2 linked regions of the Homo sapiens genome follow. The protein of the gene in region 2 purifies or fractionates together with the protein of the main gene of each other region. This does not show direct contact. Each region holds a gene or a part of one and is shown on either strand. Other genes may lie near its edges.

Region 1 (4,368 bases), on a different chromosome or scaffold from region 2:
GGCAGGCGAATCACTTGAGCTCAGGAGGCAGAGGTTGCAGTGAGCCAAGATTGGGCTACTGCACTACAGCCTGGGTGACAGAGAGAGACTCTGTCTAAAAAAAAAAAAAAAGCCGGATGTGGTGGCTCACACCTGTAATCCCAGCACTTTGAAAGCCCAAGGCAGGTGGATCACCTGAGGTCAGGAGTTTGAGACCAGCCTGGCCAACATGACAAAACCCCATCTCTACTAAAAATACAAAAATTAGCCAGGTGTGGTAGTGCATGCCTGTTATTCCAGCTACTCGGGAGGCTGAGGTAGGAGAATTGCTTGAACCCGGGAGGCGGAGGTTGCAGTGAGCCGAGATCACACCATTGCACTCCAGCCTGGGCAACAGAGCGAGACTCCATCTCAAAAAAAAGAAAAAAAAGTAACATAATTCTGTTGCAGAGATTTTGGAAGACAGACAAAAGAAGGAACAAAATAAGCCTTGAATCCTCCCTGTCTAAACCATTGCTGTTAGCAGGTGGTGAGTTTTCTTTCTTTCACAGAGGGCTTTCTGTCAGGATCCCCGGGATGACATAGACTGCCTCTTCTTTTCCTCAGTGCCTGGCCCACAGCAGGGGCTCCATGAACCAGAGAGGAATGCCAGAATGAGTGGATGTTATAAAGGGCTTGGCTTGGTTGACCTTTCAGATTCTTCTGGACTCTGAAAAACTCAGGATTCTTTGATTCACAGCAAATGCCTAGCATCGACCTGGGGTTCAGTCCCAATATGCCAGGCCCTTGCCAGTCTCAGAAGTGACTTGAGACATGGCCCCAGCCCCAGTGGAACTTGGTTTAGCCAGTCATGGGTGTCCCCAAACGTTCCAAGCTTTGGCAAATGAAGCAGGGGCTCCTTTTTAAAAAAGATCTTTATAAAAAATCAAGTCAACATGAAATTGGAATACGAAATTAATATAACTGAGGTTTTCCCTCAAATCCTATGCTTTTAAGCTAATGATTCTACAGTCCTAGAACCTTTTTTTTTGTTTTTTTTTTTTTTTTTAAGAGACAAGTTTTACTTTGTTGACTAGGCTGGAGTACAGTGGTGCCATCAAAGCTCACTGCAGTCTCCAACTCCTGGGCTCAAGCAATCCTCCTGCCTCAGCCTCCCCTTTAGAGTAGCTACATCTATAGGCACATGCCCCCACACCCAGCTAACTTTTAAAGTTTTGTGGAGATGGGGTGTTGCTTTCTTGCCCAGGCTGGTCTTGAACTCCTGGCTTCAAGCAATCCTCCCACCTCAGCCTCTCAAAGTGAGAGGACTGCAGGCATGAGCCACTGTGCCCAGCCTGCAACTAACACTTATGGTTATCAATACTCCCTCCCTTAGTTAACTGTCTTAGGTATCATAATAGCCTTTCTTATATGTATCAAAACTCATACTGAACAACAAGTTCTCAGTTGCAAAAGGAGATTTATTGTTTGCACCTGTCTATAAGTACTTGCCCACAAGTTAAACAAACGCACGCATAAGTCCACAGGGGCTCCTTTTCATGGCATATCTCATTTACTCCCTCACTCTCTCAGCATCTGTTGAGCATCTACTGCCCTCTAAGCATTGCACACATGCATTAGGGACTATTTTCCTTGGGGAGAAGATGGTGGGGTAGAAATTGCATGAATTTGGAGTCAGGCACTCCCAGCCTCTGCCCCTTCCTGGCTGTGTGTCCCTGACCCACGTTACCTAACCTCTCTGAGCATCCACTGCTTCCTCTGTAAAACAGAATCATATCTGCGGTGAGGATTAACTTGGTAATACATGTGAAACCCTTGCAACTAGGAATATATCCTCCAATTCCAACAATAACAACCACCATTTATTTATTAGGTAGTGTGCCAGGCAGAAGGGGATTTGCATGCATTATCAGTGAATTCACCAATGACCCCATGAAGTAGGTAGCATTGTCAGTTTGTTCTGATCCAATTTCAAGAGCAAGAGGGAGGTCTACCACCACCACCACCACCACCACCACAATGTACCATTTGTGGGATAATTTGTCTTTTTAAAATCTTTTATTTTTATTTGTTTTTGAGACACGGTCTTGCTCTGTTGCATAAGCTGGAGTGCAGTGGTTCGATCTCGGCTCACTGCAACCTCTGCCTCCCAGGCTCAGGAGATCCTTCACCTCAGCCACTCAAGTAGCTGGGACCACTGGCACACCACCATGCCTGGCTAATTTTTGTATTATTGGTAGAGATGGGGGTTCACCATGTTACCTGGGCTGGTCTTGAACTCCTGGGCTCAAGCAATCTGCCTGCCTCGGCCTCTCAAGGTGTTGGGATAACAGGCGTCAAGCCACCGTGCCCAAATTTGTCTTTTAGAGTCGGATGCTGGAGCATCCTCTCCTAGGCTGGGAGGTTGCTAATGTAAATGCCACACTGTATTTGCTGAAGTGGTTTACAAAAAAAAGGAATTTCAGGTTGAAAATGGACTCTTAACAAGGTACTTCAGGATGCACAATTTCCATTTAAAGGCAAAATATGGTGAATATGATCTACGGGAAAGAAACACACCTTGTGTCACCCCAATAGCCTTTGGAGCAAGAAGTGGGTCCAATTTCCCAGGGGCTGGGGGCTTCATCTCCAACTCATCTGCTTCCTTGCTGAAACCACAAGGGAGATCAAGATGCATCTTTGTCTGGCTTCTTTCTACTTCTGGGGTGGGAGAGACAGCTCTGGGAAGGGTTTCAGATGATGAGGGAGCAGTTCCTATCTGGCTTCATCAATTTTTAGATGTACCTGTAGGCAAATTACTTCCACTCTGTGGGCCTGTTTTTTCATAAACTGAGAATAATGCCAACAAGGCAGTTAATAGAAGGATCCCAAGGTAGTCCAAAGAGTTCAAGAAAGTTAGAAAAAGGACTCTCCTCTACCTTTTTTTTTCTTTTTTTTGTTTTTTGAGACAGAGTCTCACTCTGTCACCCAGGCTGGAGTGCAGTGGTGCAATCTTGGCTCACAGCAACCTCCACCTCCTGGGTTCAAGCGATTCTCCTGCCTCAGCCTCCCGAGTAGCTGGGATTACAGGCGCCCGCCATCATGCCCGGCTAATTTTTGTATTTTTAGTTGAGACGGCGTTTCACCATGTGAGCCAGGCTGGTCTTGAGCTTCTGACCTCAAGTGATCCACCTGCCTTGGCTTCCCAAAGTGCTGGGATTACAGGCGTGAGCCACCGTGCCCAACCCTCTCACCTCTTTTGAGATATGCATCACAGACCACAATGCCCAGTTTGGAGAATTCCAGGGGATTCTTTATGTAAAGCACATAGAAGGTATGTGATAAACATAACCTGGTTTTAGGAGGCAAGGATGCGTGGGTGGGTGGTGTTTCCTGGGTGGAGCTCTCCTTTAGAAAGGGCTTCTTTACCATAAAGTGAATCCCCCTAAGTTCCAAGCCGTCCTCTGTGCTGCCTTTGGAGCCTCTCCCGAACATCTTGCCAAGAGGGGGTTCCCCAGGCATAAACACAAACAAGCATGCGGATCCTCCCCAGCAAAACCACCTCCACTGTAGATGTGATCTGGGATCGTGCCCAACCGCGAGACAGTTACTCTGAGGAGGAAATCAGGGCAAAAGCAGCCCATTACAGGAATATTGTCCTAGGGCCTTGAACAAATAAGTATCGGATGAGTTTTATGAACACACATTGTTAGGGTAGTGTGGGTGTTGTCTCCAAAAAGCATGTGTGCAATGTAATTAGCAAAGCGTGAGCCTACTCAGTTGCATCATATTCTTATTTTGATGGTTTCTAAACTTGGCCATCAGAATTCCCAGGGAATCTCAGAAACATACAGATTGCTGGGGCCCATCCCACCCCATTCATGGCTGGAACCCAAAGAGAATTTGTTAGCTATCTTCAACCTTGCCAGAGAACAGTGTCTTGAACCATGACCCTCAGTGATTTGTTTTTAAAACATTTTACAGAGAGGGCTGCATTATAGCTTGATAACACTATTAGAAGCATCCTGTGGCTTGGCGCGGTGGCTCATGCCTATAATCCCAGCACTTTGGGAGGCCAAGGCGGGTGGATTACCTGAGGTTGGGAGTTTGAGAACAGCCTGACCAACATGGAGAAACCCCATTTCGATTAAAAATACAAAATTAGCCAGGCGTGGTGGCACATGCCTGTATTCCCAGCTACTCGGGAGGCTGAGGCAGGAAAATCACTTGAACCCAGGAGGCAGAGGTTGCGGTGAGCTGAGATCACACCATTGCACTCCAGTCTGGGCAACAAGAGCTAAACTCCATCTCAAAAGAAAAAAAAAAAAGAAGCATCCCACTAAACTTTTAATATTCAATAAGCAATTCTTAACCAAAATTTGGCACCCCATAGAGATTTACCTAGAAGGG
Region 2 (5,344 bases):
CTCAAGCTGGTGATATGGTCTGGCCTGAGGAAAGCTCTTAGCAACCCAGGCTCCCAACTCAGCGGCCCTTCTCATGGTTTCAGAGAAACAAAGGAGGGAAAGATTGCTGGCAGCCCAGTGTGCCAGGACGGCCAGCTTCCAGGAGGGAGAGCCGGGGGTCACGGGCCACTGTGGAGGCCAGGGGGGCAGCCAGGCATGTAGGGCATGCACTGCCAGGCCTGGGCAGCCGCAGCCTGATGGTTGAGCAGAAAGGGCTCCGAAGTTGCTCCCTCTGCCTCTGCCACTGCCAAACCAGGCCTCTGGTCAGGGCGCTCCTAGTTGGTCACTTGGGGAGCCAAGTCTCTCCAACCAGGTGCCTCCTCCCATCTAGGTTAAGTTCTCAAAGTCTCCTTTCTGGAACTTTCTCCCATTCCCCACTTTTGAATCAGTCCTTGGCCTGCCAACATCGGGCAACTACTAGAAGCCTAGAAAAAAACCCACAGAATTGGAAAACCCAACCTGAGCAGTAACTTGGGGGAGCCCCAGTTCCCACTCAGCCACATCTTTCCTATACCCCCTTGGGAAAACTTTCTAGGGCTTTAGTTTTCTCCTCTGCAAAATGGGCGTTTCTACTGTACATCTTTAAAGTCCCTTCCGGCTGTAGCAGTCCACAGATCTCTAACAGTAGAGATTTTGTCCAAGCAGCAACAGGGAATGTTTTAGGTTTGCTCCAAATCCTGCCAAATCTTATATGTCTATACCTGGTATTCGAAAAATCCACAACACACTCTAACTGGCATGCATAGCCCTTTGATGAATGCTGTGAAAGCTACTAAAAAGAATCAGACCTAATCTCTAGCTTCAGCAAGCTCACAAGTTAGGGAGCCAAAGATCATGCTCATAAGATAATCAGCAAACAAGGCACATTAGGCCTTTACCTGCTGGCTGGTATACCAGGGATCACATGCTACAGGAACTCCAAGGATTGAGAAATTAATGTGGATCCGAACCCTGAAAAGGTCAGTTTAACAGAACAGCTCAAGCCCTGAAACAGCCTCAATCCATAATAACTTGAGTTTGTTCCCAGATCTTTTAATGAGTAAGGCAGGAAGGCAGACTCAGGGTCTCTAGAAGAAAGATTTGTGATGATAAAGTTATCAGTTGGCCACTCAGGTATGCAGAAATCCCCTTTCCCAGAATTCCAAATTTCTCGGAATCCCAAATTTCCCCATGCATTTTTGCAAGCTGGTCTTTCACCTGGAGGTCAGCAGGGCAGGCATAACCAGCAATTTTTCAGGAGTTAAATAAAAATCCTCAGGAATTAAATCCCTTTGTCCCCTTCCACCAACACCTTTCTTTCCATCAGCCGTTCCACGTCCTGGATTCTACCAGATTCCAGATTATAAAACTGTTAGTTCTGAAATCAAACTCAAGGTGTTTAAATGATTTGCTGCAAATGCCTCAAGCTAGTAGAGGCTATTCCTTTCCATAAACCTAAAGGAAAAGCAGGTCTGAGCGCTGGGGGCATCGGGAGGTATCTGGAGCAAAGATCAAGGTCATTTGACAGTGGGAACCTGGTCTTTCTGCCCAGGGACCCAGGTAGGACTGTGCTCTGGGACCCACCTTCCCTCGCCTTCCACAGGGAGCTCTGATCTACAGAGAGCCGGGATAATACAGATCAAGGTTTGGATGCTTTATTTGGCTCACTTTTCAAATGAAAGCAGGACACCACATTTTTATAGCCAGATTATTTGTCCCAAGCATATTAAAACAGCCAAAATAGACAGAACAGGAAGAGAGAAAAGCAACTTTTCATCTGCACCAAACTAGCCTGACAGAGTAAAAACAGATAGAGGCTGTTTGGAAGAGATGAACTTTTCTCTTCCACCCACAGAGTATGAATCAATTCTGAAATAAGGACTACAGCAGGGGAGAAGTGGGCTAGCTATTGGAAGGAACTGCCTAAATCTGAGGGCCTTGAAATACTGGTGAGGAAGAGGAAAGGAGTGGGCACAGATTAGACATCACAATAAACCATTTCCTGCCATGACATCTACAAAGCACCTTATTTACATCTTTCCATGTTACTTAAATATTAGAGCACCCTACAGAGATAGACTACTAACTTCATTTTCACAGACGCTCAGAGACATCCAGGGACTAGCCCAAGGTCACACAGTAAGGAGCAGAGGCAAGAGCGAGGCCTGGGTCTTCTGCCTCCAGGTCCCATGCTCTGGACCACATATTTCCGGGTCATTCCCACCAGCCTGACAAAGTGGCAAGACAGAAGGCCTGCGAGGCAGGCTGAGTCCCTGACTGGCTGTGGGAACACTGTAAAAGTTACCTCCCTTCCTTCCCTGGACCTCCATTTCTGCAACCATAGAAAGGGGGATAATAATAGCACAGACTTCATAGGCTGTCATGAAGCTTAAATGAATTAATACATATAAAACATATTGTATATGCTTGGCATAAACTAAGTGCTCCGGAAGGGTTAGCCGCTTCTATTATTATTGTTATTGTTATTGTCTGTTGGTCCCTTGAAAGCAGGGGCCTAGCACCTGGTGAAAGGCTGAGAACTGACTACTATTAAATTGGTATTTCTTAAACGAATCTAAATTAAAATTAGGAATCATTGTGATATTCCTAAAAAGTGTAGAGTGCCGTACAGGCAGAGTGCTGGCCCAGATGACCTCAGACATCTCCGGAGTTAAATACTGATCATGGAGGCTTCCCAGCAATTAGCATGAGCACCTACCCAGGGTGAGCCTCCACACACCACCGCTCTGGGCAGCCAGAGCCTCCAGGGGTGTTGACACTTATCTCATACAGGGGACAGTAAGTTTAAGCCTGTGGCATGAACACCATGTAAAACATCCACCTTCTCTGAGCTCGGACAGAGCAGACACCAAACTGCAGACACTTAGGGGGTTTTTTTTGTTTGTTTGTTTTAGAGATGGGGTCTCACTACGTTGCCCAGGATGATCTCCTGCCTCAGCCTCCTGAGTAGCTGGGACTATTGGTGTGGACTTTTAACACTTTAGAAAAAAATTGTGTGTGTGTGTGTGTGTGTGTGTGTGTGTGTGTGTGTGTGTGTGTATACATATCTCCCTATAGTTTGACTTTAAAGACCAAGGCCCAATATAGATAATAAGAAAGATTTAAAGAACAAAAATGGTCATAATTGAGCCCACTAAAAATATAAGGTGGAAAATTTCCTGCCAGAGCAAAGTTTCCTTTTGGAAAAATAAATGACTTCTCCCTCCTGCCTGAGAGCCAGGAGGGCCTCTGGCCACTTTACACAGCCCAAGGAGGCTCCGTGAGGCATCGGGGTAGGCAACTGAACTTGGCACTTCCACACCCCCTTGCCTGGGTCAGTTTTAGAAGCAGCCAGGGTCAGGCCACCCTCCCTATCACCAAGCAGCAGGCAGCGGGAAGGAAAGAGGCCAGAATCCGGAGGTCCGGGTCTGGACCAGCCTCATCCTGCCTCACTGGGCCACCTTTTACAGGTGACTTAGCTTCTCTGTGCCTGTGTCCTTATCTGTAAAGCAGGGATGATAACAGTAACCTATGCCATGATGTCACTCTGAGGATTAAATGAGTGGATACTTGTACCATGCTCTCATCAATGTCCAGCATGCAGGAAGTGATCAAGGTCCGTGGCTTTTGACTCCTGACGTTTGCCCATTCATCCCCGGCCTGTTGCTCCCTCCTCAGCTCCCCTCCTTTCACCTGCTACCTCCTACTCATCCTTCATGACTCAACTTAAAGTCACTTCCTCATCCCTCTGACTAGGTCAGGCCCCCTGCTATTCCCAGAGTTCCCTGTACTGCTCATTTCATAAGCCCCAGGACACTCATTAATTTTCTGTCTTCCTGAGAATAACAGCTAACACTACATGTCAGGCATATGGTAAGTGCTTCACATGGATCGGCTCACTTTATCTTAATAACAATCCTTAATAGTAAAGGATTGTTACTATTATCAATCCCAATGAATGGATGAGGAAACAGATGTTCAGAGAGGTGAGGCAACTTGCCCAAGAATACACAGCAAGTAAATGACAGACTGCCATGTGTTTGACTTCAAAGCCAGCATTCCTAGCCAGTGGAACCCCAAATCATCAGGGGCTAACTCGAGAAAAGGCTGCTTCGTAAGGGCTGCAGGCCTGGACCAGGGACCTGCGTTCTCTGAACCAAGCTAGCCTCATGGAAATGGAGAAGGCGGCTCTGCCTCTGTCATACTTTGTTCTGCCCTCGGCTGAATGCCCTACCCAAGCAGCCCAATCTGATGTCAAACACCATGTATAGGACACCCTCCTCCCCCAGCACCCTTCCCCGAATCATTTACATGACTCCTAGCTCCAGTAAAGACCACAGGCAAATCTAAGCAGGACACAACCATGGGCATCACCCTCAAGGCAACCAGCATTTGTCCTGCACATCCTCAGTGGCAGGGCCACAAACACAACAGACAATAGCCCACTGTGTTGTAGGTGGGGGGTTGGTGGGGAGTGGAAGCAGAGTACGATCATGCCCCAGGACCAAAGGCCTGGAAGTGAGATGAAAGTGTTCTCTGGAGTCAGACAGCCCAGGTACAAATCCCTGCTCCCCACCCATTCATTCAACCTGTGACCTTGAGCCGTTCACCTACTCTCACTAAGCCTCACTCTCCTCCTCTAGAAAATGGGATGGATAATAGAATCTACCCCATGGTTGTACAGAGTAAATGCGATCATGCGTGCCCAACGCCTGCTTAATAACTGTTATTATCATGATGATGGTGATTAATCTTCATGGGTTGTGGACCATTATGTGATCGGATTGAAAAGGTTCTGGCTCAAAGCCAGAAGATCTGGGCGTGCATCCCGCCTCTGACCCACATTAGCTCTGGGACCAGGGTGTGGTCATCTCTCCACTCAGACACTCTGTTTATCCGTCCCTAAATAGAGGGGACCGTCCCCACCATGACAGAGCTGATGGGATTCAGGGAAGTAACCCATGTATGTATTCTGTACGAAAGACAGCCTGAGCAAACCTGGGAGCCTCCCATTGCTACATTAATTAATTGGAAGGAGGTTGCCAGCCAGAAACCAATTACAAAGTCCCTCCAGGGGCCTCTGCGGGGGCAAAAAGGAGGGATGAGGAAGGGCGGTGGTGGCTTCTCCCCCACTCCCCACCCCCACCCCACTTGTGCCTCCTTAGCAGCTGGTCCCGCACTCCAGGCCCACAAAGGAGAGGCTCATTCTAAACAGCTACTTTTCATGTGGAAGCCACTGGATTTGCATCTGTCCTTCCCTGGCAAGGCCTGCCCCATGCCAGCTGCCCCAAGCTCCCCAGGCTGCAGGGTGCTCCAGGACCCTGGG

What was found. The genes of interacting proteins can lie anywhere in the genome.
Region 1: the proteins of CORO2B (region 2) and SSH1 purify together in Homo sapiens (co-immunoprecipitation; one large-scale study listed by IntAct). This does not show direct contact.

Annotation. Positions count from the first base shown.
Region 1 is NC_000012.12:108,776,770-108,781,137, forward strand, and holds the end of SSH1 (protein phosphatase Slingshot homolog 1), read right to left. Parts: 3' UTR 1,422-4,368; downstream 1-1,421. UniProt on the Homo sapiens protein: Protein phosphatase which regulates actin filament dynamics. Dephosphorylates and activates the actin binding/depolymerizing factor cofilin, which subsequently binds to actin filaments and stimulates their disassembly.
Region 2 is NC_000015.10:68,584,784-68,590,127, reverse strand, and holds part of CORO2B (coronin-2B), read right to left. Parts: intron 1-5,344. UniProt on the Homo sapiens protein: May play a role in the reorganization of neuronal actin structure.